Homo sapiens: one gene and its partners. The protein of the gene in region 2 interacts with the protein of the main gene of each other region in a pairwise test. Each region holds a gene or a part of one and is shown on either strand. Other genes may lie near its edges. The genes, in order: VSIG1, UPK1B, TMEM91 and GPR161.

Evidence for each region.
Region 1: the proteins of UPK1B (region 2) and VSIG1 interact in binary tests that used the Homo sapiens proteins (3 or more experiments, as listed by UniProt).
Region 3: the proteins of UPK1B (region 2) and TMEM91 interact in binary tests that used the Homo sapiens proteins (3 or more experiments, as listed by UniProt).
Region 4: the proteins of UPK1B (region 2) and GPR161 interact in binary tests that used the Homo sapiens proteins (3 or more experiments, as listed by UniProt).

What each region holds. Positions count from the first base shown.
Region 1 is NC_000023.11:108,040,484-108,048,417, forward strand, and holds the start of VSIG1 (V-set and immunoglobulin domain-containing protein 1 isoform 2 precursor), read left to right. Parts: upstream 1-4,581; 5' UTR 4,582-4,647; coding exon 4,648-4,696; intron 4,697-7,934.
Region 2 is NC_000003.12:119,183,254-119,190,854, forward strand, and holds part of UPK1B (uroplakin-1b), read left to right. Parts: intron 1-3,460; 5' UTR 3,461-3,488; coding exon 3,489-3,557; intron 3,558-4,521; coding exon 4,522-4,722; intron 4,723-6,991; coding exon 6,992-7,066; intron 7,067-7,601. UniProt on the Homo sapiens protein: Component of the asymmetric unit membrane (AUM); a highly specialized biomembrane elaborated by terminally differentiated urothelial cells.
Region 3 is NC_000019.10:41,372,111-41,380,060, forward strand, and holds the start of TMEM91 (transmembrane protein 91), read left to right. Parts: upstream 1-4,422; 5' UTR 4,423-4,744; intron 4,745-5,153; exon of another isoform or gene 5,154-5,213; intron 5,214-6,170; 5' UTR 6,171-6,199; coding exon 6,200-6,409; intron 6,410-7,950.
Region 4 is NC_000001.11:168,133,394-168,141,632, reverse strand, and holds the start of GPR161 (G-protein coupled receptor 161), read left to right. Parts: upstream 1-4,702; 5' UTR 4,703-4,894; exon of another isoform or gene 4,895-5,236; coding exon of another isoform or gene 5,237-5,376; exon of another isoform or gene 5,377-5,623; intron 5,624-6,596; exon of another isoform or gene 6,597-6,711; coding exon of another isoform or gene 6,712-6,727; intron 6,728-7,711; exon of another isoform or gene 7,712-7,757; intron 7,758-8,239. UniProt on the Homo sapiens protein: Key negative regulator of Shh signaling, which promotes the processing of GLI3 into GLI3R during neural tube development.

The DNA of each region.
Region 1 (7,934 bases), on a different chromosome or scaffold from region 2:
TCTGGCGGACAATTTTGCAGTCTACCAAAAATGTAAACTACATACCCTTTGATCAAGCAATTCCATTTCTAGGGACCTAATCTACAATAATAATCACACAAGTGGGCAGATCTTGACAAAAGGATGTTCATTGCACCATTGTCAATAATATTGAAAAACTGGAAACCATCTAAGAATTTACCAATAAGAGAATGATTAAATAAATTGAGGTACATTCATATCATGAAATACCATGCAGCCTTAACATGGACAAGGTTGATCTATAGATGCAGCTGGACCTAGTGACAGAAAGAGAGAATAAAAATACTTTTTTTAAGGGAGAAAAGCAAATTATAGAACAAAATGTACAGTATTATCATCTTTATGTTTTAAAAAACCTCGTGTGTGTGTGTGTGTTTGTGCATGTGTACATGCACAGAAAAAGGTCTGAGAAAAATGCTAAACTCCTGTTCCATGTGAGCCTGGGAAAGGGATTACATGTGTGAGTGAATGAATGGGACTTTTTTTCCTCTGTATCCTTGTTTGTCCTTTGAAAACCATTTACTATCAAAATGTATTACTTTTGTAATTTTTAAGTTAAAAATGAGGGATAAATCAGATATCACATATTTCTGAAAGTTCCCAAGGAAGAATACTGGGGGCAGTAGCATATTTGTTACATTACAATCACACCGTGCCATTGTGTGGTGTGATAGGAACAGCTTCTAATGCGTGCTATGGTGACCTTGGGAAAAGCACAGCACTTTTGAGCCTCAGTTTTCTTATATAGAAAATGTAGGTATACCTGACTTATTTGTTGTATTGGAAAGCTACATGTTCATTGAACCATTGTCAATAATATTGAAAAACTGGAAACCATCTAAGAATTTACCAATAAGAGAATGATTAAATAAATTGAGGTACATTCATATCATGAAATACCATGCAGCCTTAACATGGACAAGGTTGATCTATAGATGCAGTTGGACCCAGTGACAGAAAGAGAGAATAAAAATACCTTTTTTAAGGGAGAAAAGCAAATTATAGAACAAAATGTACAGTATTATCATCTTTATGTTTTAAAAAACCTCGTGTGTGTGTGTGTGTGTGTGTGTGTGTGTGTTTGTGCATGTGTACATGCATAGAAAAAGGTCTGAGAAAAATGCTAAACTCCTGTTCCATGTGAGCCTGGGAAAGGGATTACATGTGTGAGTGAATGAATGGGACTTTTTTTCCTCTGTATCCTTGTTTGTCCTTTGAAAACCATTTACTATCAAAATGTATTACTTTTGTAATTTTTAAGTTAAAAATGAGGGATAAATCAGATATCACATATTTCTGAAAGTTCCCAAGGAAGAATACTGGGGGCAGTAGCATATTTGTTACATTACAATCACACCGTGCCATTGTGTGGTGTGATAGGAACAGCTTCTAATGCGTGCTATGGTGACCTTGGGAAAAGCACAGCACTTTTGAGCCTCAGTTTTCTTATATAGAAAATGTAGGTATACCTGATTTATTTGTTGTATTGGAAAGCTACAAAGATAAAATGGAAAATTAGTTTAAAAATTATAAAGCTCTATAAAACTGCAAAGGATATTTAATATTTCGTGTCCTAGTTAATGACCCACTTTTTAAGCAATAGTTAATAACATCAAAATCCAGGTCCAAGCAGAGAGTTTAAATTCTCTTTTAGAGTTTGTTATAACAGAATTCTTCCTGTCCTGGTTAGGTCTTACATAGCAGCAGTATAGATATTTTACTTAAATATTCCAGAGTGTTTTGTGTTTGCACAACAGATTTTGGTGCAGATGGGTTTGGGCAATATCCTTAAATCATACCCTCTGCTGCACTCATCTTAGGGCCAACCAACTCAGACATACTGAATTAATTAGCAAGCTCTTACTTAGCACCTACTTTGTGCCTAGTAATCCCCTGTGGGTAGGTAACCAGACACCCAGGTTTGTCTGGCACTGTTACTGTTTATGCTGTCTTTCCCAGGTAATTGCTAATAGTGCCCCTTTCACTTTCAAAAGTGTCCTAGTTTTAATGATCAATGGTCACACTACTATAATCACTTATGGGGCATGGAAGGAAACACAGGAAGCTTCTGGCTTACAAATGCCAGACTTATAAATTTCGCTCCCCATCCCACGTCCTCACCACTGGAACTACCGGTATTACTTCCAGGGTGGGGGGCATTGTGAAAACTATGGGTCTTTTAGAGACTTGGTGGACTTAGAAGTCAAGGCAGAACCAAGCCTGAGAAAAGGTGGTATGGATCTCCAGAGACCCACCCTACAAGTTGTCCTCCTTTGCAAAATCTTCTCCCTCAAACTATTTCTCTTTATTGCATTGCCTAATTCTCCTGGTCAGAGATTTATGTGAGGAAAGTAAGCACTGTATTTTTAATAGCACAAACAGGTTGGAGAATGTTCAATGAAACGTTTTTTTTTCCCTTCCTAACATGGAGCTGCTGTCTGCTTATACAGGGGAAAGGGAGGGTTTCTGGGAGGAATAGAGGTGAAAAGGAAAAAGTAATTTTGGAGCATGAGATATTCTGGGGAATGAGACTCTCCCTTAGGGCAAACTAGGGACCCAGGAGCCAGGGGGCCGTGAAGGTGGGAGGCAGAAGAGAAGGTGGATGTCAGAGACATGCAATAGTTATTTGGGGGAAAATGTTGATTTGTGCACAAGTCATATCTTGGGAAATGAAAGGAACGTTCTTTCTCTGTCACCTGCTGTTCCTCCTCACCCTCCACTGCCTTATACGGCCCAGTACGCAGAATTCAAGCCAGTGCTAGATTATGTGCTACATGCCTGACAGTGAGACTCATATTATAACATTGCTTCTGCAGGAGTTCTTGCGTGCAGTCAACGAGTTTACCATTACATCTTGGGACACGCTCATTTTAAAGTTGGGAACTGCCTGTATAAGACATGGTCCCTACCCTGGAGGGATTCACAGTGACTAGATTTAAGGTAGACCAGTTAATAAATGCGAAACTACTGGAGAATAATCAATGGTCAGCTGTAGGATATTGGCTTTAAGTAAAATGGAAATTTATGCTAGGGTGGTATGTCGGTTCATTGAAATTCTCACATAGGACAGTATGACTGATCTATGCTAAGAATATACTTGGCTAGTAAGAGGAGGAAGAAGAAAACTCTAGTGATGGAAATCACCTGGAGCCAACGTTTGGCATCAGACATGAGCATGGACAGGATAGGCTGCAAGGAGGAATCAGGCATGATGGAAGCAAAATGGCTTTCTAAGAAGCAGTGGGAGATTGGAATGGCTAAAGTAAGATGGGGTCAAACATTTCCTGTAAATTAAAGACAGGAACATAAAACATATCACTTGAAATTTGTACACATTTCATGTGACTGAACACTTTGAGGCAATAAATCTTGACATACTTTTTCAGGGGCATGAGTTAATGTGGCTAAAGTTCAGATGAGGTGAGGATCAGATATTGGAAGAATGGGAATCCATATTAAGGACTTTGGATTTGATGAAAGAGTCCATTTATGGTGTTACTGGAAATATTTCACTAGGGCTGGAACATTGGCCTGCGGCTGGCACACAGGATGAAGGTGGAATAAGTCAGGGAGACCACTTAGGAAGCTGCTATGATAGGCCAAAGTGGGAAGCTGAGTACCTGGACCAAGATGGAAGCAGCAGATTGGAGAAAGAACACATCTGAAAGTCGCTGTGGAGATGGAAATGATAGGACTTAGAAATCACATGGGAAGAGCCAGAGAAAGTCCTTAGGTTTCTCCGGGTAACTTAAGCATAATAGGAACACTATTAGAAGTTCATGTTCCCATGAAAGTTCCTTACCTGTGGAGCCTCCCATGCCCTCCTGGTGAACCTCCATTTCTAAGGAAACCCTATAGCATTTACTGAGTATCTTAATTCTCCAAAAAATCAGACTTCTCCAAAGAAAGTCTTTAAGCATGTATTCACTAACTTGATTTTGCAAAATTACGTTAGCAAATACGTGCTATAAGGTTTCTAACCCGACAGACAAAAGCATGTAAATCATTTTACTGCTAGTTTTGGTGGAGGGTAGTGACAACTGCCAGTGTTTCAAAAAAGAGTAACATATCCAGAGTTTGTTCACACAGAAATGAATGCTTTTTAGCTTCATAACCCCTGTGCCCTTCCCGTGAGCCCCATCTCCCCAGGAAACGATATAGTACCAATTTACTAACTTAATTTGTAAAAGGAGGTTAGTGAATCAATTCTGTAAGACTCATGGAAATATTTGAAATTAATTAGCCTTGTCAGCTTTTATTTGCATAGGCTCTCTTCCAACCATATCCCCCAGCCCAAGTACAACGTTTTAGTAAGATTGATTTTAAACAATGAGACTTAGAGAATCTGTGTACAAGGAGCTTGAATAATTTAAATGCGTGGGTTTATTATTAACACAGTAGCAAATATATCAAGGAAACACGCCCCATGAAAAGTGTTTCAAAGAAACACAAATCTGTACTGAAAAAAGTCTATACGCAATAAGTAAGCCCAAAGAGGCATGTTTGCTTGGCGATGCCCAGCAGATAAGCCAGGCAAACCTCGGTGTGATCGAAGAAGCCAATTTGAGACTCAGCCTAGTCCAGGCAAGCTACTGGCACCTGCTGCTCTCAACTAACCTCCACACAATGGTGTTCGCATTTTGGAAGGTCTTTCTGATCCTAAGCTGCCTTGCAGGTAAGGAAAGGATCTCCAAACCACCAAATATAATTGGAAACAGAGTTTCCTTTTAAATAAAAATTCCACATTTTTACATAGAATTTTCATCTCCTGTACTTCAAATGAATTGTGATTAGTATGATGAGTTAATTTTCAGAACTCTTGCTTAGCAAACATATGCCATGCTGATATATTAGGGGTGTAAGCCCATAATATTATTGTTTTATGGAGCTTCTGAATGAAAATTTTCTCAGAAAAAAATATAGTTTATTACTTTACTTACTTTGAAAAGTGAAAAAAATGAATTTACTCAGAAACCAAACTTTGTGCTAGGGATAATTTTGTCTCTGTTTTACTTACTTTAGTGTTTCCTTTAAGCTCAGTGATTGACTTGCTCTAGCAGGCAGAGCCTGGGTTGGAGGGCCTGCCCTGGCTTACATATGGGAAGAACAGAAATTTACTGAGTACTTTACTGTCTAATATTTCTTAAGGAGTTGTGGTTTTCCAATCCTAAGACTGTATTTTGCAAAATATGTGAGTGATTTATGGTGCACAACATGGGTGATTTTAGGTATCTGAACAGAAGAAAATCAATTTTGGAATCAAAATACTGATGTTAGTTAGATCCAGGAGAGATCATTAATTCCAAAAATCCCTTGGGTAGTTTTCAAATATCAGATACATTTTGCATCTGTTCTTATAAGTTAGGTCCATAGTAAATACAATAATATTGTTTATCCAAAAACAGGATTTTCAAGCCATTAGTAATATTAGGCAGTGGTTAGAATGAGGTTTACTAGGCGTATTAATGACATAAGAAAATACCCACGATAAAATATTAAGTGAAAAAGCAGGATGCACACATATGCCTAGAATAAATTACTAGAAGGTTATATACCGAAGTGCTCATGGTGGTTGCCTCTGGGTGATGGGATTATAGATGATTTTAATTTTATTTCCCAGCTTTTCATACTTCCTGGGTTTTCTACGAAGAACATTATGCTATTTTTATAATTAGAAAAAAGTGTTACTTTTCAAAGTGATCTCATGTTTAGAAATAGTTCTTTAAATGTTCATTACTAAATGTTTAAGCATAGATGTTTTATGGAGTTAAACATCACCAGAAGGCAATACTCCATTTGTCCAGTGACCTAACTAGGCCCTAGAGCTGGAAACACATGTTCCTATTTTCCCTTCTCCCCAGGCATATTCATTTAAATGTAACTTTAGATATGGAAGTTTTGTCTCTTCTTAAAGGGTTTCCAGTCATTAGCCAGTTGGGTCGACCCCTGGGCCTTCTGCATCAGCCCTCTAAGATCATACCTGTTTCCCTATGTGAAGCCTTGCCCTGGCCCATACTAGGCACAGGGTTTGGAACGGTTGTTAAGAACAGTTTTTTTTTTTTTTAACTGTACCTAACATACAAGTAATTTTTACTGATTATAAATGTAATGCATGGTCATTGTAGAAAGGTTGGAAATATGGAAATTTAAAATAAAATAAAAATCATCTGCAATTTTACCACTCAGATTTGGGTGAATTATTATTCTTTTATTTGCAGGTGTATATATTACATTTTAAAAATTGGGTTTATTCCTTGTATACTTTTTTATTGTTTAAAAAAATTGTTTAGCATCATGTCAGGATTTTATTTTATTGTGACTTTTAGAACAAGACCAATAAATACTTCAGAGTGTGTTTCCTAAGTTACTATATAACTGATTTTGTTGGTATATAGTGTACACTATATATCTACACACATATTATCTAGTTGGCCCAAAGCAGTAGTGTCAGTACAGCAAATTGTGGTATGCTCTATTGTCGTTTGCTGTGCTTACATATGTATTGAAGTCAGAGAAAGGATCACTTTAGTAATCTACACCTGTCATTAGCAGTGTTCATCAGTTGATCTGGACAACTGATAGTGTTTCCATCAATGTGCAATTTGATGTTCTTCCTGGACTTGTTTTGGAGAGAATGTCACTTTTTGGTGTTAAGCGTGGTGCCTAACACATAGTGGATGCATAGTAAATGTTTGTTGAAAGAATGAATTACTTTCCCAAATTCCAAACATCCAGACATCATTTTCACATACATATTTAAAATTGATTTTGATATAACTAAACAGGTCAGATTTTGCTTAAATCAAAATATTTTCAATGACTTCTTAGGAATTCTTAGGTTAAATTCTAATTCAGGAAAACGAGTTTTAATCAAACTTCTGCAAAAAATTTATGCATATCATTTTAGGTATTTGAAATATGTATTAGTCACCTCTTAGAAAGATATGTTAATGTGGGTTTCATTTTCTGGAGGTATATGCTATGCATTTTAAAGGAGTAATATATTTGAACTTTGAGTTTGCACTCAAATCCAAAAAAGTGAGTGATCATTTGATTATATTATTTCCTAAGTCAAAATGAATCTATTATATATGAAGTTGCTGGAAATTAAATCACTTCAAATCTATCAGATTAAATATGAATATTTGGGGGATATTTTGCTGTGGTACATTAGGAGGATAATAATCCTTCTATAAGCAAAATGTTTGCCACCTTGTAGGCATTAAATGAATGAACAATCACCACCAAAATACAAGACATTCTCTCTCTCTCTCTCTCTCTCTCTCTATATATATATATATATACATATATATATACATATATATACACATATATATATACATATATATATACACATATATATATACACATATATATATATACACACATATATATATATACACATATATATATACACATATATATATATACACATATATATATATATATACACACACATATATATATATATATATATATATATATATATATATATATACACATATATATATTCTTTTGAGACGAAGTTAAGTCTTGTTGCCCAGGCTGGAGTGCAATGGCACGATCTCGGCCCACCGCAACTTCCGCCTTCCGGGTTCAAGTGATTCTACTGCCTCAGCCTCCTGAGTAGCTGGGATTACAGGCATGCACCACCACGCCCGGCTAATTTTGTATTTTTGGTAGAGACAGGGTTTCTCCATGTTGGTCAGGCTGGTCTTGAACTCCCAACCTCAGGCGACCCGCCCACCTCAGCCTCCCAAAGTGTTGGGATTACAGGCGTGAGCCACTGCGCCCAGCCTAAAAATATTTTTAAATGTTGATTAAGTGTGTACATCTTGGATTATTTTTCTTTAATAATAAGCACTTTTTTAATTATTATTATACTTTAAGTTTTAGGATACATGTGCACAACG
Region 2 (7,601 bases):
AGCTTCCCTTTTTTTTTGTTTTTTTTTTTTTTGGAGATGGAGTTTTGCTCTGTTGCCCAGTGCAGTGGCCCAATCATGGCTCACCACAACCTCCACCTCCCAGGTTCAAGCGATTCTCCTGACTCAGCCTCCCAAGTAGCTGGGATTACAGGCACCCGCCACCATGCTCGGCTAATTTTTGTATTTTTAGTAGAGACGGGGTTTTGCCATGTTGGCCAGGCTGGTCTCGAACTCCTCACCTCAGGTGATCTGCCCACCTCAGCCTCCCAAAGTGCTGGGATTACAGGCGTGAACCACCATGCCCGGCCCCTTTTCTTTATACAAACAATGGCAAGACAACAGCTTCTCCCCCTAGATCCTTCAGAAGCAACATAGCCCTGATTTTAGCCTGGTGAGACTCATTTTAGACCTCTGCCCTCCAGAACTGTAAGATACATTTCTGTTATTTTAAGCCACGAAGTTCGTGGTAATTTGTTTCAGCAGCAATAGGAAATGCAGACCTGAAAAACCCATCTCTCAGGTCTGTTGAGAAGATGAATATCAAATGCCTAACATAGTGCCCAGAGCATTGTAAGTGCCCAATAAATGGCAGTTTTCATCACTATTTCCTTATCTTGGAAGACAGGAGTAGCTAAATTATCATGTGCCATTGATACCAAAGGCCTAAGGGAGAAGAAGAGAATGCATAGTGAAAAAGGAGAACATTTTAGTGGCCAGAAAATTCAGAATATCTTGCCCACTGACATATCACCACCTTCCAATAACCAACCCACAGCTGGGCTGCCTCCCTGGCATTTCTGTCATGTCCTTGCCTAGGTTTCTTCAATTTATGCTTTTCTTTTTGCTCAGAGCAAGTTTCTACCTTCCTTCTTTTCTCCCACTTTTATCTGCGTTTTCCACCCTAATTGTGACTCCTGCAATTCTCCCATAGAATATTCATTTGCTCTTTCCCCTTTGTCTAAACTCTGTGTGGCAGAGTCATCTCTGGAAAAGTCTGTACGTCACGGGGCATAATTGGGTCACCCAGGCCACCTCCCTTGATCGGGGCCCCTGCAGTTCCTTTCTGGACCAATAAAGCCCCTCAGCGGTGCCTCTGTCTTTCTCCACAGCCCTCCTTGTCCCCTTGATGTGCACGGTCATTTTTCCTTTGAACCCACGCTGTAATTGCACTTTAAACTCCTTGAGGCCAGGCGCAGTGGCTCACGCCTGTAATCCCAGCACTTTAGGAGGCCAAGGCAGGAAGATCACAAGGTCAGGAGTTCGAGACCAGCCTGGCCAATATGGTGGAACCCCATCTCTACTAAAAATACAAAAAAAAAAAAAAAAGCCAGGTGTGGCGGTGGGCACCTGTAGTCCCAGCTACTAGGGAGGCTGAGGCAGGACAATAGCTTGAACCTGAGAGGCGGAGGTTGCAGTGAGCCAAGATCGTGCCACTGCACTGCAGCCTGGGCAACAGAGCAAGACTCTGTCTCAAAAAATAATAATAATAATAAAAATAAACTTCTTGAAAGAAGAAATTGTCTTATTTCACACAGTACATAATCAGTACGAGTTGATATCGGTGCTGAATTTGGCCTCTACTGATTTCTGCCCTTTCCTCTCTATGCTTCTGTTATCTGAACTCCTACGTTTCACAGTCTATTTACTTTTGTCTCTAGTTTAGATACTAACCCAACTGGTCAGGAATAATGTCTGTACATACCAGTAATGAACTTTACAATGTGACTCAACCAGCTACATGAGTAAGTTTCCCCCTTGGGGGAGTTTGTGCAGTCTAACACGCAACAATAACTGGAAAGAATGAATGAAATTTCTAAGCAGAAAGAAATGAATGGCATTTCTAAGCAGAAACTACACAGAGACGCAATGGCCCAGATTCTTCCATTTCTCCAGCAAACATGAATTGAGTACCCACTGTGTGCCAAATTCTGAGCTAAAAGTGCTCATAAATTTTAACTGAACTTGTCACAGCTACCCAGGTAAACAGATAAAGGAAAACATTTAGAGATGTCTAAACTTACTTGGAAGGTTGTTAATACTTACAGTGTAACAATGAGGTTAAAATTTAGCAAGGCTTGAGACAAATAGAAGGTTTGCCTCCCACTGCTACCCTACAAAACTAGGACTTTGACCAAATTGACTGGTTTGCTATCTTGTGGGCACCTTGCTCTTCTGTCTCTACTCCCTAACTTTTCCTTTCTCTTTACCTGGAATGTCACCCACCCCCACCTCACTCCCACACATATCCACCTCTACTCTACATATCAAACCATACACATCCTGCAAGACTTACGTCTTCCCGCCTCAGGACTCTCACAATATTTCATCTCACTACATGTAGTATAATTGTGTGGGAATGCATCTTAGTTTCCCTACTAACGCAAAAAATCCTAGAATACAATAATCTCCCTTACATATCTTTGTATGCCTCAGAATGCATATTGAACCATTTAATACATTTTTTATTTACAGCAGGAATGCATGAATTGATTAATTAAATGTTGAGAGCTGTAGATGGCTTTTCTCAAGGTGCTTCAAGTGCAGAAGCCCAAGTGATTGACCCACACACTTACCTTTGTGTTCCTTCCAGAAAATCCTCAGGGAGGTGAGAGACCCATGTTCAGCTGTGTATGGCACCAAAGTCTATACATAGTTTCTGGGAGTCACTGTGGGCTGTGGGGAAGCACGTGGACTCTGGAGTCACACACACCAAGGTCTCTAGCCTAGCTCTGCCACTTACTGGTTGTGTGACCCCAGGGAACTTAATTTACAAATTTAAGCTTTAGTTTCCTCATCTGCAAAATGGAGCCTCCTCGCCTTTCTTCTTTTGCTACCGAACTGGGTTATGAGAATTAGATGCGTGCATGCAAAGCACCTGGTAGAGTGGCACACACCTGGCAGAAGGAAGTAAATTCTAGTCCCCGTTTTCACTTACCCTCATATACAACGGGGCACTTTTTTATTTGCCAACTATTTCTTTGAAGATAATAAAAGAGTCAGAAAATGATAGTTTTTAAAAGCACCCTGCAGTCCACATGGGAACCAACCACTACCTCTGGCCATGAGTTTACCCTTTGGGTTTCCATTTGTCATGGCCAAGGGCAGTGAGGGCTATGCCAGGGACCCTCAGTGTGTTTGGCCCTACCCAATCACCATCTCAGGTCTACCCCTTGTGCATTCCACCTTGCGGGGCTCAGTCCACCACTCAGAAGGATGCATTCTGCACACTCCTTGCCTGAAAGAACTCCTGAAAGGCACTGACCAGGCTCTGGAAGGCTATATTCTTTTCATTCTTTATAAAAGTTATGTGATTACCAAGCTCAATAATCAAATGTCCTTCATCGCTAAAAGATTATATGGCTTTGGTTTGGATGCTTTGGGAACAAGGAGGCAATACGCAATGGCTTGGTTTACTCATGTTACAGAAACTGTAGCAGTTATTTGGTAATGCTTTCAACAGTGCCTTCAGCTTGTGGGAAATCCCGAAGATGGCCAAAGACAACTCAACTGTTCGTTGCTTCCAGGGCCTGCTGATTTTTGGAAATGTGATTATTGGTGTAAGTAATGATTATTTTCCAGGAAATTCTGCACTTCCTGTAATCATAATTCTAGATGAATCAAAAGTAAGAGTTTAAAGGAAAATAATGCTGTGATTACTGGCTTCCTATATTTTTGCTTCATTTTAAGAAATGTGTTAGTAAATATGCTAGCTAGAATTTAACTGTATGTCAAAAGATCATGGTTGAAAAAGTAGATATTTTCCTCCCAACTTTAAAATATAAGTATCTAAAAGGAGTCATGTCAACCATAGTCAGTGTCTAAACACTCTGACTACGAACACACTTCACTATTTCTTTTCTATGTCACCTTGGTTTGATTTCCATGGGACTCTGCTGTTAAGGTTTTTTGGGACAGATGCTTGCATCTTGTTCTTCTCATACAGAGGCCAGTACCAGGGTGTAAGAATAATACAGAGGCCATACTGTGTGGGTCTGGTGGCATAGAAGAACATTTGTTTTGGAGTCCAGAGCTCTTGGCCCAGCTCTCCCTCTGACTCCCCATATGACTCTGGCCATCACCTTTCAAGGCTGAGATTCCTCATCTATAAAATGTGGGTGTTGGCAAAGATAAGCAGCAAGGTTCCTCTCAGCTGTCATTGATAAATATGACCAGGACCAGCTCAAATATTACAACCCAGAAATGTGGGTCATGACATGGGGGCAGGGGGAGATCATTCTCATACCAGAAAGCATTGTTTGAGTGATTCATGCCCCAAGGACATTGTGGATGGTCTGAAATTGTGTGGGTCTGTTACTAAATAGACAGAATAACATGTGAAGGGATGTATGCAACCAGTTAGTAGGATGGAAGTAGTTGTTTGATTTCCTGGCAATGGGGAGTTTAGATTAGTTGCATAAAGCCTGTGCAGGAAAGGGAGCCAGTCACTCTTACCTTCCCCACCCTCCACCCCCTTTCCCAAAGCTGCACTCCTGATGGAGCCCACCTTTCATTTGCCCCCAGTGTTGCGGCATTGCCCTGACTGCGGAGTGCATCTTCTTTGTATCTGACCAACACAGCCTCTACCCACTGCTTGAAGCCACCGACAACGATGACATCTATGGGGCTGCCTGGATCGGCATATTTGTGGGCATCTGCCTCTTCTGCCTGTCTGTTCTAGGCATTGTAGGCATCATGAAGTCCAGCAGGAAAATTCTTCTGGCGGTAAGACCTCAAAATTCTCTGGAGTTGTCTCCCTGAGCCAATTGTAATGGATTCTTTCTTCTTCACTGAGCAATGCTTTGGCTTTCAGTGGGGGAGCAGGAAGTACCAGATAAGGGGTGAGGAGGGGAAGACTTTCCCTGCAGTGAAATGGTCCACATGGAGGCAAAGATGCCCTCCACTATTGCAAGCCCAGAAGGCTCCAGTACAGAGAAGCCAAAGGGGAGACACCTGGGGGTGACCTAATGAGTATTTTCCATATTGTGCCTCTACAGCTGGTGTCTGCATACACCCAGTAGGTACAGCTAGGAGCTATATAGGCCAAAGGAGAGACACAGTGAGAATTCATTCATTAGATTTTTTTCTCTTGGCAATAACTTGTTTAAAACATTTTGATATTAATTAGGCATTAATATATTAGGATATAAAATATAAAATATGCATACATTTTTAAAAGAAAGTATAAGCTTTCAAAGATTTTTGAGCTCAAGGTTGATGATTCTGTATCATAGCCTATACTCCCCACATTATCATCCAATCTGCTTTTCAGGGACCCCAGAAAACCTTGATAAGCACCACTGTAGAGTGAGCCTTCAGCTCACACCTGCCTGTGGGGGCTTTAACTCTGTACATCAAGGAGAGGCTTCTGCCCCAAACCATAGACAGCAAGACCATGCCCTGCCTTTGCAGATGAAAGCAAATTTGCAGGCAGCAGAGCTGAGAAACCTGTTTCAGACGTGGACCCCTACTGTCTGCCCTAATACTTAGGGCAGCAGTTTCACACTATTATGGAACACGCCTCCAATCCCCCACCCCTGAAATAACCCTTTTATTCAAATGCTGCAGGACCTCAGTTCCCCCTTTATAGAATGAGTCCAGCAATGTAAGGTGCTTGTTAGTTTACTCTTCCTTTTAACTAACCACTGTCCTGGTTCCAATGGATTACAGAACATTTACATTCTCTGGTTCCTTAGTGTGCGTAAGTTCCAGGGCAAAAGTACCCACTTTTGGTGGGTGGGGAAAGGAATACAGGAAAAAGGGAGAGGAGACACAGGTGTTCCTAAAGACAAATTCACTTGCATCCCAGCCTCACTTTGGGCCAGCCATGTGCATGCCTGACAACCAGGAGAACTGAGCTGGGGAGGCAAAGGGGCTAAAGGAGGAAACACCTCACTGCATACCTCCTTTCTGGAGCGTCTTTACCAGGAGCCAGCAAAGCTCTTGGCAAGGAGCAAGGCAGCAGCTAACACAGGAAAAAAATGTTCTGGGGCCTCTGAAGGTGCTCCTGCTGTTGACTGTAGCCAGAGCTTTATTCTGGGCTGAGTAGTGAGGGCAACAGAGGGTCCTGCTCGGAGAGCCTCCCATACCCAAAGAGGAGGACAGTTTTCCCTGCCTACCCTGCTGACACTGACCACAGTGCCCCTTCTCCCAAGAGTGTGTGCAAGCCTGGGGAAGGCAAAGCTGGAACTCTTGCAAACAGTCCCCATCCCAGATTCAGAGGTCATTTGCTGTTCGGATATTTTCCAGCCAGAAATAGCATCACTGTCATGTGGAGGTATCATGTGCACACGCACCCATGTGCCCATGCTCACGCACACACACCACCACTACCACACACAGCAAATGCCATTTCACTCAACTGAACCAATGTACTTTGAGTGTGGGTGCGTGTGAAAGAACACCCACAAATGCTGTGCACTTGAAGCCTGCCTCTCCTCTGATGAGACTGGATGCTTGTTAGGAAGGACCCTAGATGTTCAACATTATCCAGTTCATCTTTTTCTGAACTCCGTGATTCTAAATTTTCAGCAAATTGTAAAGAAAATTTCTCCAAAATTCCAAAATTAAAGGGGATTTATGAGGCCCTATACTGTATGTGATACACTAAGACTCTCTTGCCACTCACTGAGCATGCACATGCATGTAAATGCACACATGTAAATGAGCATGTAAATGCTCACATGTGTGTGTGCACACATACACACCAGTTCATTCTCTTGTACTTGTTTTTCCCAGTTAAAATAGAAACTCAGGAAACTGGACTGAGGAAGGTCTGTATTCAATGGCTATTTGTTCTCTGGAGAAAAGGAGAGAATTGAGCTGACTAGCACCAAGCCTCAATCCAAGCCACTGGTCAATGAGGGTTTGTTGAATAACTACATGAGTGATTACATGATTATATGATAAATTTGCTGAAAAAACATAATTATTTGGGCAAGTCGCTCTTTGACGGGTAAATGTAATTCTTTTATCTCATTTATTTCCCTTCCAGTATTTCATTCTGATGTTTATAGTATATGCCTTTGAAGTGGCATCTTGTATCACAGCAGCAACACAACAAGACTTTGTGAGTACAACCTCAAAAAGCAAAATAATATGAATTATCATTATTATAACAACCAACATGTATTAACCCCTTACTATGTGCCCAGGCAATCCAATATGCACAGTAATAATACATCTATCATTTTACTTAATCCTCATAAATCTATGAAATAGGCATTATCACTCTGGTCATTTGAGAAAGGAAAAAAAATGAGACAGAAAGGTAAAATGACTTGTCTAAAGTGACATAGTTGGCAACTGAAAGAGCAAGAATTCTGAACCCAGATGGCCTGACTCCCAGGGCCCAAGTTTGTAATCCCCTGTGGGTTTCACCACTCTGCCATGGCCATGGGCCTTCCAATGGGAGGATCTCTGTTCTACCTCAGCTAAGACGTGCTCTCAATTCTACATCTTTCTTTCTCTCCCATTCTCTGTTTTCCTAGCCTAAGCCACCCTACAGTATGTGTTCCCCTGGCCTCATAGTGATTTCTTTTAAGATGAGAGTCTCTTCTCTGCATGGGGACTTATGCCAACCTCAGCCAGCTGTACTTGGTGCC
Region 3 (7,950 bases), on a different chromosome or scaffold from region 2:
GGCGGGGGTGGGGATCACTTGAGGGTAGGAGTTCGAGACCAGCCTGGGCAACAGGGTGAAAACCTGTGTCTACTAAAAATATAAAAATTAGCTGGGCATGGTTGTGCGTGCCTGTAATCCCAGCTACTCGGAGGCTGAGGTAGGAGAATCACTTGAACCTGGGAGGCAGAATTTGCAGTGAGCTGACATTGCGCCACTGCACTCCAGTCTGGGCAACAGAGTGAGACTTCCTTTAAAAAAAAAAAGTTTTGGGAGAGATGGGGGTCTTACTGTGTTGCCCAGGCTGGCCTGGAACTCCTGGGCTCAGGCAATCCTCCTGCTTCAGCCTCTGGGATTACAGGCATGGGATTACAGTGCTGGGATTACAGGCATGAGCCACTGTACCTGGCCAGCACTTTATTTTATTGTTATTTATTATTATTACTTTGTTTTTTCATAACATTGATGTTTTGAAGGTTATAGGCGACCTCCTTTGTAGAGTGTCCCTCATTTTGGCTTTGTCTCATGTTTCTTATTATTAGATTTAAGTTATGCATTTTGGCAGGAAAACCAAAGAAATGGTATGTGTCTCCCTCTTTGCTTCAGACCAGAGGCAACTAAGGTCAATTTGTCCTGTTAATGGTGATATTAACTTGTATCATCTGGTTAACGTGATGTTTGCCAATTTTCTCCATTAATTTTTTTTTGTTATAATAAGTAATCTAGGGGAAGCTACTTTGAGACTAAATAAATATCCTGTTCTTTATCAAATCAGATTTTCACCCAATAACTTAATAGTTTCAGTCTCTGTTGACAATCCTTGCTGGAATCTCGTGATCTTTTGTTTTTGTTTTTGTTTTTGTTTTTGAGACTGGGTTTCACTTTGTTGCCCAGGCTGGACTGCAGTGGCACAATCATGGCTCACTGCAACCTCCACCTCCTGGGCTAAACCAATCCTCCTATCTCAGTTTCCCGAGTAGCTTGGACCACAGACATGCATCACCACACCCAGCTGATTTTGTTTATTTTTTGTAGAGACAAAATTTCACTTTGTTGCCCTGGCTGGTCTTGAACTTTTGGGTTTAAGTAATCCTCCCACCTTGGCCTCCCAAAGTGCTGGGATTACAGGCTTGAGCCACCGTACCCAGCTGGAATCTCATGTTTAATATTCCAGACCTGTCACAAACACTAAGAGGTGTAGCCTCTTAGACTGTACAAGGCTAACGGCAGCCAGAGAGCTCTCACTGGAAGTGAATTAATCTCTAGGATGGCCTAGAGGGATGAGGGGACCCACAGAGCTCAATGATTTGGTGAAAAACTGAGGCTGGAGGCTGATGGGAATTTATGCCCCCATCCCACACATATGTAATAAAGACCCACTTTGTGCCAGGCACTGTTTTAGGCCGTGAGGCACAGTAGTGAAAAAACGAGATCAAATCTCAGCCCTTGTTGTGCCGACACTGATGTGGGAGGATTCAAACTACAAACAAGAAAAATACATGGTATGTTTAAGGCCGGGTGCAGTGGCTCACGCCTATAATCCCAGCACTTTGGGAGGCCAAGGCGGGCAGATCACTTGAGGTCAGGAGTTTGAGACCAGCCTGGGCAACATGGTGAAACTCCGTCTCTACTAAAAGTACAAAAATTAGCTGGGCATGGTGGCAGGTTCCTATAATCCCAGCTACTTGGGAGGCTGAGGTGGGAGAATGGCTTGAACCCAGGAGATGGAGGTTGCAGTGACCTGAGATCGTGCCACTGCACTCCAGCCTTGCTGACTGGGGTTTTGCTATGTCGCCCAGGCTGGTTTCGAACTCCTAGGCTCAAGCAGTCCTCCCTCCTCGGCCTCCCAAAGGGCTGGGATTACAGGCGTGGGCCACCGCACCTGGCCTACAGTATGCTTCATAGAAATATGAAAAGAATGAGAGCAAGGTTGAGATAGAAAGTAACAGGGCATCCCTCCTGAGTAAAACAATCCTGCCCCCTCACGCTCTCGTCTACCCTCCCGTGGGTCTCCCTGCTTCTGTCGTCTGCCAGAAACTGGCTGAGCCAAGTGCACTTGCAGACGCCATCTGTTCTCCCTGGGAGTGGGGCCGGTGCCAGCGCCAGCATCTGGACTCTTGGCAAGGAGCCCTGGAGCCCTGGAGCGAGGGAACTCCGGCCCCACAAAGGCCAGGGAATCCTCCAGTCTGGTGAGACGGAGGGCTTCTGGGAAGGGAGGCCTATACAAGGCTCCATGAAGGAGGTGGAAGCTTGCAAGACGATGATAGTCTTGTAATCAGTCCGATGGAGATGGATGTAAATAATAATATTAATAAACACCATCAAATGTGTTCAGAGTGCTTTCTTTGCCAGGCTTTGGATAAATGTTGGATATCTGTTCTTTTTATTTTTTATTTTTCTATTTCCTAGGCAGCACCTAAACCAAAATAGGTTCAGAGAGGCTCCCAATGTTGGACATTTGTTGTTGCAGCAACTCTAAGTACTCTACATATGTTATCACATAAGAGGCAAGGAGCATTATCCCCATTTTGTAGGTGAAGAAATAGGGGTTCAGAGAGGTGAAGGCATTGTCTAGAGGCCACACACTCAGTGACTTAAAGAGCCTGGAAAGGGGCCAGGAATGGTGGCTCACACCTGTAATCCCAGCACTTTGGGAGGCTGAGGCGGGTGGGTCACCTGAGGTCGGGAGTTCAAGACCAGCCTGACTCATATGGAGAAACCCCATCTCTACCAAAAATACAAAATTAGCCAGGTGTGATGGCGCATTCCTGTAATCCTAACTACTCGGGAGGCTGAGGCAGGAGAATCGCTTGAACCTGGGAGGCGGAGGTTGCGGTGAGCCGAGATCACGCCATTGCCCTCCAGCCTGGGCAACAAGAGTGAAACTCCATCTCAAACAAACAAACAAAGAGCCTGGAAAGGAAACCAGGTCTATGTGGGTCCAAATGCTGACTCATGAACATCACTGTACCACGTGACAATCAGAGCATCACCCCCTACTGGACCCCACTCCTCAGCCTTCTTTCCCTAGAAACTCCTAACCCACCTGCCTCTGCTTCCTCCTCACCCATTGGCTTAGCAAGGGCCACAGGAACACAGCCCGGGGTTACAATATGCTGGGCTTGGTACCAGCTGTTTACTGTGGCCAAGTGAGCATGCAAGTGAGCCCGTTTATTTTCTTTTCTTTTTTTTTTTTTTTTTTTTTTTTTGAGACGGAGTCTTGCTGTTTCCCAGGCTGGAGTGCAGTGGCGCGATCTCGGCTCACTGCAAGCTCCGCCTCCCGGGTCCACGCCATTCTCCTGCCTCAGCCTCCCAAGTAGCTGGGACTACAAGCGCCCGCCACCAAGCCCGGCTAATTTTTTGTATTTTTAGTAGAGACAGGGTTTCACCGTGTCAGCCAGGATGGTCTGGATCTCCTGACCTCGTGATCCGCCCGCCTCGGCCTCCCAAAGTGTTGGGATTACAGGCGTGAGCCACTGCGCCCGGCCCGTGAGCCCGTTTCTTTATCTGCAAAACAGGGATTAAAAACAAGCCAACACCCCTTCAGCACTCCTCCGCAAAAAAACACCCCAAAACAAAATAGGCCAGGCGCGGTGACTCACACCTGTAATCCCACCGCTTTGGGAGGCCGAGGCTGCAGTGAACCCAGGAGTCTGAGGCTGAAGCGAGCAATGATTGCGCCACTGCCTTCCAGCCTGGGCGATCAGAGCAAGACCCCGTCTTTTAAAAAATAATAATAAAAAAAAAATCTGCCGGGCGCGGTGGCTCACGCCTGTAATCCTAACACTTTGGGAGGCTGAGGCGGGCAGATCACCTGAGGTCAGGAGTTCAAGACCAACCTGACCAACACAGCGAAATCTCATCTACTAAAAATACAAAAATTAGCTGGGCGTGGTGGCTTGCCCCTGTAATCCCAGCTACTCGGGAGGCTGAGGCAGGAGAATCGCTTGAACCCGGGAAGCGGAGGTTGCGGTGAGCCGAGATCACTCCACTGCACTCTAGCCTGGGCGACAGAGCAAGACTCCGTCTCAAAAACAAAACAAAACAAACAAAAAAACCAAAGTAAAATAGCAGCGACAACAACAACAACAACAAGAAAAACCCGGAGCTGAGAGGAAGAATGAATGCGATGATGAATGTAAAGCGTTTAACACAGGGCTTGGGTACAGTCTGCCCTCAATGAACCAATGATGTACCCCTAGGCAATTTACCTAACCTCGGCTTGCCAGTTTCCTCCCGCGTGAAACAGGACAATAAACGATTATGCCTCTTAGGGTTGTGCTGAGGAATACATGTGTATGTAAGTTTATTTGCAAAGCACTTAGAACAGGGCGCACGGTCCTTGTTGCTGTTATTATTATTGGCTATTATTGCGCAAAGGGGAAGGGAGGCGGGGCCAAGCCAGGAAGGCCCTGGAGAATCCGGGGTGCCCCCTCCTCCGGCAGAGCTTGGGCCTGGGCTCACGAGGAAGGGGCTGCAGTTCTCCAAGGATTCCCGCCTGCTCCCAGACCCCCGGGAGTCGTAGGAACCCGTTCCTGGACGCTGACGTCGGCTTTCAGGGATCCCTCGCCGGACGCCGCGGAGGGACAGAGCCTGGGAAGCCGTCGCCCCGCCCCGTCCCCGCCCCCGCGCGCAGCGGGCCCGGGGCGCTGAGACCCGCGTAGAGCAAAGCGCAAGGTCCCAGCGCCCCTTGGATCCTCGGTGGCAGGGTCCGGGCAAGTGTCATTGCGAGGGTTCAGGAAGCCCCGGCCTGTGATCGTGAGCGGTGAGTGAGGGACGTAGGTGGGTGGGGGTCACAGTCCCTTCCCTGGGTCCTGGAGTTGGGGATGAGAGGGCAAAGCTTTGGCGAGGAAATCGGCTCAGTCAAGGTTTGGAATGAGCAGGCAGGAGGCTTGGGGACCTTCCAGGGGGATCGTAGGACGAGAAGAAGAATATTCTTTCTGGTTGTGTTGCGTGTGTACGTGTATGTGTGTGCTGGGGTTGAGGGTGTTTATGGGGGCGAGGTGTGCAAAGGATTCTGGAGAGCTGGTGCATGTGTGGGAGTTGTGTGGAGTCATAGGTGTGTGGGTGGAGTAGGGCAGGGGTGCCTGGGCCTGATGAGTGGGGCAGGCATGCCAGAGGTCATGAGAATAGGAGAGAGTGCCGGGGTGCATGTGTGCGTGTGTGCACAGGTGTCTGTGGTTTGTGATGCAGTGGGGAGTAGGGTTGTGCACGGAGTCAATTGGGATAAATGTGTAAGAAGGTTGGGGACCTGAAAGGGGTGTTTTCTGGGAGCTGATGTTTTGGGGCAAATATTCAAGGAGTCCTTTGGGAGATGAATGTGTGGAGGTGGAGGCTGGGCTTGCCTAGATGGGGCTGTGTGGCAGGGGACTTCGGGGGGCAGGTCTAGGGGACAGAGGATGGGGAATGTAGACTAGAGTGCAGTTCCAGGCAGCACTGGGGGTAGGGGATGGGTGTGTGTGTGACTGGGAGGGGTGCCTGGGCCTGGATAGGTGGTCACGCGGTATGAACCTGGGATGGATATTGGGGGTGTTTGTGGGGCAGGTAAGTGTGTAAGGCATGGTGCAACAGGTGCTGCAACTTATTGGGGTAAGTGTGATGGGTATGTGGCTTTTGCCTGAGAGAAATGCCCAGAATTTGGCTGGGTGCGGTGGCTCACGCCTGTAATCCCAGCACTTTGGGAGGCCAAGGCTGGTGGATCCCCTAAGGTCAGGAGTTCGGGACCAGCCTGGTTAACACAGTGAAACCCTATCTTTACTAAAAATACAAAAAAAAAAATTAGCCGGGCATGGTGGTGGGCGCCTGTAATCCCAGCTACTCGGGAGGCTGAGGCAGAATGGTTTGAACCCGGGAGGTGGAGGCTGCAGTGTGCTGAGATCATGCCACTGCACTCTAGCGGATCTGCAGTGGTGGATCTGCCTGGGCAACAGATGGAGACTTTGTCTCAAAAAAAAAAAAAAAAAAGAGAGAGAGAGAGAAATGCCCAAAATTGAATGTCCAGACCCCTGAGTTCTCTTCATAACCTGAGGCCAATCTTTTTTTCTCTCTGGGCCTCAGCTTCTGTATCTGTAAAATGGGTCTGAGGACCACTGCACTAACTAGTCTCTGCCTGAGTCTCTCTAAAGCAAGGGGTCAGAGGTTGAGTGAAGTGAGACTTTTACAACTTGTCTTTTTCTTCCCCCTACCCCTAGGAAACCCCTCCTGGAGTTTCCCCAAAGCCATGGACAGCCCTAGTCTTCGTGAGCTTCAACAGCCTCTGCTGGAGGGCACAGAATGTGAGACCCCTGCCCAGAAGCCTGGCAGGCATGAGCTGGGGTCCCCCTTAAGAGAGATAGCCTTTGCCGAGTCCCTGAGGGGTTTGCAGTTCCTGTCACCGCCTCTTCCCTCCGTGAGCGCTGGCCTGGGGGAACCAAGGCCCCCTGATGTTGAGGTAGGAAACAGCAGGCCTTAGTGGAAGGCACGGGAGGGGGCTGGGGTGAGCCCCACTAAGGCCAGCATCTGGCAGGTTGACAGCTGTGCCGATCTGCCTTAGGCCTGGAGTCTCACTTCCCAGCTGTGTGTGGGCTTCTGAGATTTCCAGTTACGGTTCTTCTTGTTTTATGTCTCTCATCTTTGTTGCCTGGCTTTTGGCTCTGTCTTCCCTCTGATCTCAGACTCCGCTGGTTGGTGTCTTCAGAGTGCATGCACCTCTGGCTTTTGTCCACCCTGCTGTCTCCCTCTTTGTGTGTGTGTGTGAGAGAGAGAGAGAGAGAGAGAGAGAGAGACAGGGTCTCGCTCTGTTGCCCAGGCTGGAGTGCAGTGGAGCGATCATAGTTTACTGCAACCTTGACCTCCCGGGCTTAAGCAATCCTCCCACCTCAGCCTCCTGAGTAGCTGGGACCACAGGCATGTGCCACCATGCCTGGCTAATTTTTTGGTGTTTTTTGTAGAGAAGAGGTTTTGTCATGTTGCCCAGGCTGGTCTCAAACTCCTGAGCTCAAGCAATCTGCCTGTCTTGGCCTCCCAAAGTGCTAGGATTAAAGGTGTGAGCCACCATGCCCAGCCTTCCTTTTTTTTTTTTTTTTTTTTTTTTAAGTTACTGTTGTCACTTTTTATAATTTCTCATTCCAGGCCAGGCACAGTGGCTCACACTGGTAATCCCAGCACTTTGAGAAGGCGAGGCAGGAGGACTGCCTCGCCCAGGAGTTCTAGGCTAGCCTGGGCAACTTAGTGAGACTCCATCTTTATTTTTATTTAATTTTTCATTTTGTCCTCCGAAAATTAGAAAGACCCCATCTTAAAAAAAAAAAAAAAAATTAGCCAGGTGTGATGGCGTGTTCCTGTAGTACCAGCTACTTGGGAGGCTGAGGTGGGAGGATCGCTTGAGCCCAGGCTGCAATGAGCTGTGATCATACCACCTTACTCCAGCCTGGACAACAGAGCAAGACAGACAGAAAGAAAGAAAAAGAGAGGGAGAGGGGGGAGAGAGAGAGAGAGAGAAAGAGAGAGGGAGGGAGGGAGGAAGGAAAGAAAGAAAAGAGAGAGAGAAAGAGAGAAAGAAGGAAGGAAGAAAGAAGGAATGAAGGAAACAAGGAAAGGAAGGAGGGAAGGAAGGAAGGAGAAAGCAGAAAGAAAGGAAGGCAGGCAGGCAACAATCATGATGAACTCTTACGGTTTCTGTTGGTCAGGAATTTGGGACTTAGTTGCATGGTTCTGCCTCTGGATCTTTCTTGAGGTTGCATTCAGCTGGTGGGTGGAACTAGAACAGTCAGGGGCTGGCTGGGCACTTTTCTCTCTCTTCATGGTGTCTTAGGGCTTCCTTTTTTTTTTTTTTTTTTTTTTTGAGATGGAGTTTCACCCTTGTTGCCCAGGCTGGAGTACAATGGTGCAATCTCAGCTCACTGCAACCTCCGCCTCCTGGGTTCAAGCAAATTCCCCTGCCTCAGCCTCCTGAGTAGCTGGATTTACAGGCATGTGTCACCATGCCCAGCT
Region 4 (8,239 bases), on a different chromosome or scaffold from region 2:
TGATATTCATCCTAGTTTTTCTTCAGTTTTTGGAGGTTTTTTCTTTTTTGAGTTAACTTTTCTCAAATTTGTAAAATATGTACTTAGTTTCAAAGCCATACAGCAAGGAACCTTCCTAGAAACCTTGCTTTCTTTTTCATTCCTTCTGTTTGTTCCTTTCCCTTATTGGAAACCTTCTTTTTATTGTTTTTGGTTTGTTTTTCCACTTTTAAGTATAAGCAAATACCTATATATTTATTTTCTTTCCTTTTCTCACATAAAAGATAACATAGGCTGGGCGTGGTGGCTCACACCTGTAATCCCAGCACTTTGGGAGGCCAAGGAGGGTGGATCATTTGAAGTCAGGAGTTCAAGACCAGCCTGGCCAACATGGTGAAACCCCGTCTCTACTAAAAATAAAAAATTAGCCTGGTGGTAGTGGGGCGCGCCTGTAATCCCAGCGACTCGGGTGACTGAGGCAGGGGAATCGCTTGAGTCTGGGAGACAGAGGTTGCAGTGATCTGAGATCGCGTCACTGTACTCCAGTCTGGGCAACAAAGTGAGACCATGTCTCAAAAAAAAAAAAAAGATAATGTATAGCAAATATTCCTGCACCTTGCTTTTTTCCACTTAACAATACGTCTTTGAGGCCACTACATGTTAGTGTATAGAGATTTTCTTCATTCATTTGTAGCACTGAATCCTAACTTATTCCTCTAATCCCCTACTGACAGACATTTGGGCATTTTTAATCTTCTGTAATTACAAATGTATCCCAAATATATAATGTTGCTTTTTATTGGCAACAGAAGATAAATGTGTACTTGAGGATTTTTTTAATAGATCAAAAGATAAATGTACTTGAGGATACTTTTTTCCCCCGATACAAAATATGTGGAATTTTTTCCAACATCAATCAATTCTCTGACACCAATTGGGTATCCAACAATTCAATTCAATTCCGACACTAACTGCCTGAGATAGTTCAGACTCCACAGATTAAGGGCTCAGTCCCATACACTGTCCCCACTTCAGGCACCACATGAATGTCCAGGGCCTCCAGTACTTCTGACCGACTTGGCTTCAGATCAGGAGTTCCCATGGCTAATAATTTCCTATAACAGCTCACAGAGCTCAAGAAAGCACTTTACTTACTTTGATTACTGGTTTATGACAAAGGATGCAATTCAAGAGAAGCCAGATGGAAGAGATGTGTAGGACAAGGCAGTGGTACGATCTCAGCTCACTGCAACCTCCACCTCCCCGGTTCAAGCAATTCTTGTGCCTCAGCCTCCCATGTAGCTAGGACTACAAGTATGTGCCACCATGCTCGGCTAATATTTGTATTTTTAGTAGAGACACGGTTTTGCCATGTTGGCCAGGCTGGTCTTGAACTCCTGACCTCAAGTGATCCACCCGCCTTGGCCTCCCAAAGTGCTTGGGTTACAGGAGTGAGCCACCGCATCCAGCCCAATAATGCTCATTTCAATATATCAGCCCTAGTGGATGACATCATGAAGTGGTCAGACACTTGAAGTTATAGACAGGATCACTGCAAGTATGACACAGATATATAAATGTAGACCAAGTCACCTAACTTGTACTAGTAAATCTGATACCATGAGTGGCATTGTTAATAGTGAGGTGATTTCCAAAATACTGAACAACTCTTGGTGAGGTTTGAGTAAATCAAGGTGCAATCTTCCTTCAATTCACATAGTACTTGCATTCCTAGACAAATTGCTGTACAACAAAACCATGCAAAAAAACCCCTCATGGATATATGTAAAATAGTTTGGTTTCAGACTTAGAAAAGTATAGACAGTTTTTACTGTCATGTGTGAAAGGAACTGTTCTTTTTGTGTAGGACTATTTCATGTACTGCAAGATGTCTGGTATCCTGGGCCGCACCCAATAAATGCCTGGGGTGTCCTCTAATCATTGTGACAAACCCAAAATGCCTTTCAAAATGTCGTATTAAGAATCACTGAGTGAGATGCTTTCTGTTCCAAGTAACAGAAATAAACCCATACTGATTCAATAAAAATATATGTATATTGATTGGCTCTTGTTTCTGATCAGTCCAGAGGCACATCAGTTTCAGGGAAGTTTCCATCTGAGGTCAAATGGTTTTACCATTCTATCAGTGGAGGCATACTGTAAACAAATAAATAGAAAAATTGATGCATATTTTATAAATTTGGACACATTTTATGTAGAAAAACAACAGAGCTGTGAAAGAGTACATAGATTAGAGAATTTCTTTTAGATTGGTCAGGGGCTGAGTGCAGTGGCTCACATCTGTAATTCCAGCACTTTGGGAGGCCAAGGTGAGAGGATAGCTTGAGCCCAGGAGTTAAAGACAAGCCTGGGCAACATAGCAAGATCCCATCAGGGAAGACTTCTCTAAGGAAGTGACATTTAAGGTGAGATGTGAAGGGCAGGAAGGGCTTGGCCTGTAAAGAGTGGAGGAAATAACATTCCATGTGGAACAAATAGCATATTTCACAGTTTTGCTTTCACCAGTTTTATGTGGACTGCTAGACTGAAATGATATTTTACATAAAATATGTTTTATATATAAATTATTCAACACACATGTGAGGTTCAGTTGGACAAGGCCTCTCATTATCTTACTTTATAAGTCTTTGTGGATGTCTCTAAAACAGAATGGTTTATTAAACTAATTTGGGAAAGGAGAATTAGTGTGTATCTTTCTCTTTTTCTAAAAAAATATAAATACATTCTTGCACAAAATCAGTCACGTTTTTCACAATTGTCACCTATACAATGATATACGGTGAAATAATTACTTTAATAATAATTTGTCTGTTTTCTCTGCATCTGATTGAATTCTGCTCATAGCTCAATATTAGCTCCAGAAGGGAAAAAAATCTTAAGAGAGCAATTGAAAATGCATTTGTTGGCAGCAATTTCCATCCCTGAATGCACAGTAAGTTCTGAGCTTATGAGCTCAGAAAAAAGAAAAATCTTTGTGATAAATAATGCATTTGATAATGAGCAGCAGGAGAAAAAAAGTGTTTTCTGTTGAAGAGTTCAAAATGAAATAGAGTAAGTATGGGAAAAGGTTGCTCAGTATGAAGGACATCTTTCGCATCATGGATGGGTATGGAGCCACAACAGCCGTAACTGTTTATTTTTTATTCTCATTCTCACCATGCCAGTCTGTGGCATATATTTTCAGACCTTTCGTGAATACCAATTTTCAAAAGGGTTTAGTTCTCAGATTCTATGTCACTGGATGATTTACTTACATGACCTCATTTAACCTTTTCAACTCTACAGATAGGAAAGTATGAGTATCCCCATTTTATATATGAATAAGCTGAGAGGAAGGTTAACTCACTCCCTCAGGCTCATAGAGCTTAGCCGACATCTGAGTCAGTGTAAATTAAATAAATATCAGGGATTTCAAAATAAGTGTCTAAAATACTATTAAGAACAGAAAGCTTTAAGCTCCTTCAAGTGTCTGGCTTGCCGCGTGACCTAGACTCTTAAGTGGAGCGTCAGCTTCCAGTTTTTGACCAAATAAAGCATTTATCCCATAGGAATATTAAGGCACCCATTTACTTTTTTCTCCCCATTATCCCATTTGTCCCCAGAGCAATGTGGGTGTTTGGCAGGTGCCAGACAGTAAATTACTGTTCTAAATTGTGCCTCAGTGGCCCAATAATATTAAGGAAGCATCTCCCACAGTGTCAATCTGTAGACAAGGGAATAATTAATGTATTTATCAAAGCAGATGGATTTCAGAGGAATGTGAATCCTGCTCTAAGCACAGCATCAGGGTTTGTTTTTTTTTTTCTGGAGTTTAGTGAACTGGGCTTTGTAACTTCTTACCTGATTATTTTGCTGCCCTGTTTGTCCTTCCTTCTTTCCCTTTTTAGCAGTTCTACTCTGTGCTTCAACTTTTCATCCCCTTATTAAGACTGCTGCATAGAAAACGTAGGAGTCTGGAGACAGGCAGGCAAAGTGGGGAGTGAGGAAGGGAAAACAAACATTCTGAGAAGGAACTGTTCCGTCCCCCGAGCTGACAGCGCCCGCTCTTTGTTTTGTGATGACTGCTCCCTGGCCTTTTGGTTCCGAGGGAGTGCAGGGCAGCAGTGTGAAGACCTGTTTACGTCCACTCCCCACTCCCCGGGGCTGGCTTCGGGACGAATTCACTGTGGTATTAACAGAGCCCGGGACAGAGCCTGGCAGAAGGCAGATGGATGCTCGTGCCCGTCGGCTGGATGAATGAAAGGTGAGCAGCAAAGGCGATACCAGGATCGTCCACGGCGGGACTGGAGGAGGAGAATGGGACTGTGCGGAGCCTGCGGGAAGAATCTGAAAGTGTCTGTGTGATGGAGAGAGACATGGAAAAGGCGACGTCCCAGCGGCTGGAACTGGGGCGGAGGAACGGGAACAGGGAAGGCCTGAGTTAGGCACCACAAAGGTTTTCAGGAGAAAAGTGGGGCGAGCCGAGAGGGTAAGGGCGAGACAAAGAGCAGCAGCCGAGGCTGTTCGTGGGAAGAAATGGGAAAGAAGCAGCCGGGAGGGCGGGCGGACGGACGCGAAGGAAGGGGCGCGGGTGGGGAGGGGCGCCGGGAGCTGGGCGGGGCGGGGCAGTGCGGGGCGCGGGGAGGCGGCTCGGGGCTCCGGGGGCCGGAGGGGCCCGGCCGGGCGTGGGGGGGGCGGGGCGGGGCGCGGGCGCCGCAAAGTTACTTGGCCTGCGCCCGCCCGGGTCCGCGTGCTGGTGGCTGGCCCGCGGGAGGAGCGAAGCGGGGCTCGGTGGGCTGAAACCCGAAACCTCCAGTCCCGGAGCGCGGCGGGGAGGAAGGAAGCGGCGGCGGCGGTGGCCGAGGCGGGGAGGCGGCTGGGCCGGGGCCTGAGCTGCCGCGGCGGCCGCTCCTCGGTGAGCACCCGGCGTGGGGCGCGGGCGCGGGCCCGGGCGGAGAGGGCGGTCCGGATGGAGCCAGGCTAAACTCATTGTGCGAGGCTGAGGGCTCAGGGCGCGGGCCGGGAAGGGTCCCCGCCCCCACGGCGCTCCCTTTCTCCCCGCGCCCCTCTCGGAGGTCAGGGCTGTCCTCCGCCCGCACTGCGCCTTGCTTTGGAGAGCTGGAGCTCTTTGTGGGAAGATGTTGGGGGCGCGCCCCTCCCCTGCGGCCTGGGGCTTCTGAGAGGCCCACCCCATTCTGCTGGGTGCAGCCCGCCCCGTTTCTCCGGCGCCGCCCGAAGCCCCTAAACAGTCCGCTGGATGGGAGGGCGTAGGTGCGTGCCCGGGACTCTGCCGATGCGGGCCGCGCCCCCTGGGGCCAAGAGACTCCACGTCCCGCTCAGGGCAAAGGGTGTGGGGAGAAGCGGTCACGCCCCTCGGCTGGAATCCGTGAGGACCAGGTGAGCAGCCTTCTCCCAGCCGGGACTCAGGGCGCTGTCTCCCCGAGCCTGGGCGGGCGGCGGGTGGCGCGCCCAGAAGTGGCCCGGCGCCGCCGGATGGGCGGCTCTGCCCCTCAGATCTGCGGGAGGGAGATTCGGCTGGTTCTTGGAAAGGGGAGAACTCGACCAGCCCTCGGCGCCTTCTGGGCCAAGCTTAACCCCCGTGCAACCTTTGGACAAAGGCATATGGGATGAGAACGTCTGTTGGGTAAGTGGGGTGTGTCCTGTGCTTCCCGGAGGTCTGCTCACCAGTAACCACATAGCTGCGCATTGGCATCGCTTTATATCACATCTTGGAGGCTATTTTTGCTTGTTATTGTACTTTCATCCCTTTTGCAAAGTGCTTTCATAGAGCAGGTCATTTGATCCACCTCCCGGTGAAGCCGTGAGGAGGTGTGTGGTTTTGGAGGGAAAGAACCTCAGTTCCTTGATTGTCCAATGGAGACACCGATAACCTCCGGTGAGCCTGTCTCAGCGTCCTAGGGGCTGGGGGAGGATGGCCATCCTTGTGGCTCCTCCGTGGAGCCAGGCGTGGATTCAGCCTGGCTTCTTCTCCCCTAGTGACCTGGACCTCCAGATGAGTTCTGGAGAGCTACTGCTTCGGGGAATAGGCGGTTTTCCCTTATAATCTATTTTACTGCAGCCACTGGGAGCAAGTGAAGAGAGGCATTTTTCAGGCCCTCAGGGCAGAAAGAGGAGGTGGGAGGGACCTCAGGTCATAGAGACAGAGGCTCTTCAACTGTAACTGGAATGCATGGCACCCATTTCTGTTACTTCTTTCAGAGCACCTCTCTTCCGGTCCTCCTCCACACCCGTCTTATTTTATACTTGTCAGGTGCTTACAAGCACTTTCATGTACACTTTTTCATTCACACAACAACCTTGTGAAGCTCTACTAGCCCATTTGATAGGTGAGGAAACTGAGGCTCAGGAGAGATGAAGCATTCTTGCCCAGCTAGGTAAGCAGCCCAGATTGAACTCAGATCTTTTGCCTTGGTAGTGCTTTTCACGTGGTTTCCTGATGGCACACAGGTGAGTTCTTTAACTCAGGGCTTCTCCCTGCCCTGTAGCTCCACTGCCATAACATCAAGAATAGAGACCCCTCATTAAGAGGCCCGCTTGACATTTTGGAACTAATCCAAGGCCGCAACGATATCCGAACCGTTCTCTTTGTGTTGCAGCCTGGTGCACTGTGCGTCCTCTGAGAGGTGAAGGAGCACTGTGTGGTCAGAGGGCTGCGAGCTCTCTGTTTGGGTTCCGAGGAAGACAGAATGGGCTGAACTGGAACTGACCTAAATGTCAGCAAGAGGAGGTACAGTTCTGTGGTGTAAACTCCACTGCCAGCAGGGACCAGTCAGGAAGCCTGAGTGCAGGAGGCGGGTGGACAGGAGGGCTGGGTGGGAGCTGTGTGCTGCTAAGCCTGTCTCCAGTAAGGGGGCAGCTGCAGGTGCGGTGGGGCTCCAGCACATGGTTGCCTGATCTTAGTTTTGGGGGAAACTGTAAATTTTTACGGAAAACAAGCTTCATATATTTTTAAAGATAGCAACTGATTCAAAACATTTTTTTTAATGTGCGTGCAGTTTAACCAAATTATGTGTGCAGGCTGCTTGCGTCTTCTGTGTGAGACCTTGGGAAGCACTGACTGTCATTCTGAGATGCAGTAAAGCATGACAGCAGGGGAGAAATGGTGTCTTCTTGCTGTTTTTCTATAAGAACAAAAAACATCAACAGAACTAGAGATAGCTATCAGTGCTACCTGGAGTTTGGAGGAGGGATTGACTTTATGACTCCATACTTCATTCATTCACCCAGTACTCGTCTATGACTCTGTTTCTACACCAAGAGAAAAGGCTTACAACTAGTTTTAATCTATTTCCTTGCACATTTTATGTGCTCAGCAGGGGAGAGGATAGCATTCATGGCAAATATGTTCAGGGAGTGCTGGAGCATAAAGGAAGGAATTTGCAGTTGGCCAGGGGTAAAGCATGAGGAGGTATATTTCAATTTTATTTTAGTTTGTGTTTGTTTTATACTCAAGCAATGGGTGAGAGAACACTGTGTTAAGAGCACTATCTGAAGTCAGACAGCCTACCTCCCAGCCCTGCCCCTTATAAACTTGTGACCTTAGGTAAATAATGTAAAGCATTCATGGAATATAGTAATTTTTCAAAACTAAGAGCTGTAAATATTTTAAAACACAGTAACATATAGGAAAATAAATTAAATTCCCCTCCACCTCTTCTCTACTCCTTCTCCCCACCTTTGAGATAACCACTGTAAATGTCTGTCTTTTTAGGTCTTTTTCAGTGTGCTCAATATGGTCACCAAGCCTGGAAACATAGGTGAATATATAGTTTATTGCTATTATATAAAACATGATAAAAAAGTATTACCTACATTTCTCACTTTAGGACCAACCTGAATATATTGAATATACTTGAAAAAATACATAAATGAAGCTGGGCATGGTGGCGCACACCTGTAGTCCCAGTTACTTGATAGGCTGAGGTGGGAGGATCGCTTGAGCCTAAGAGTTCAAGTCCAGCATGGACAACATAGTAAGATCCTGTCTGTTAAAAAAAGAAAAACATAAATCGGGTCATATAATAATGCTCTGTGGTTTACTTTTCTGATTTAACAATATGACTTAGAAGTCATTCAATAACAATAACAGATACATTGTACTTCATTCTTTTTAATAATAACATAGTATTTCATAGTATCGGTTCCCTATAAATTATTTAAACATTCCCCTCTTGATGGACTCATAGATTGGCTTCCAATTTAATTTAGATTTTCTGTGTATCTTTATCTGTGTACATGT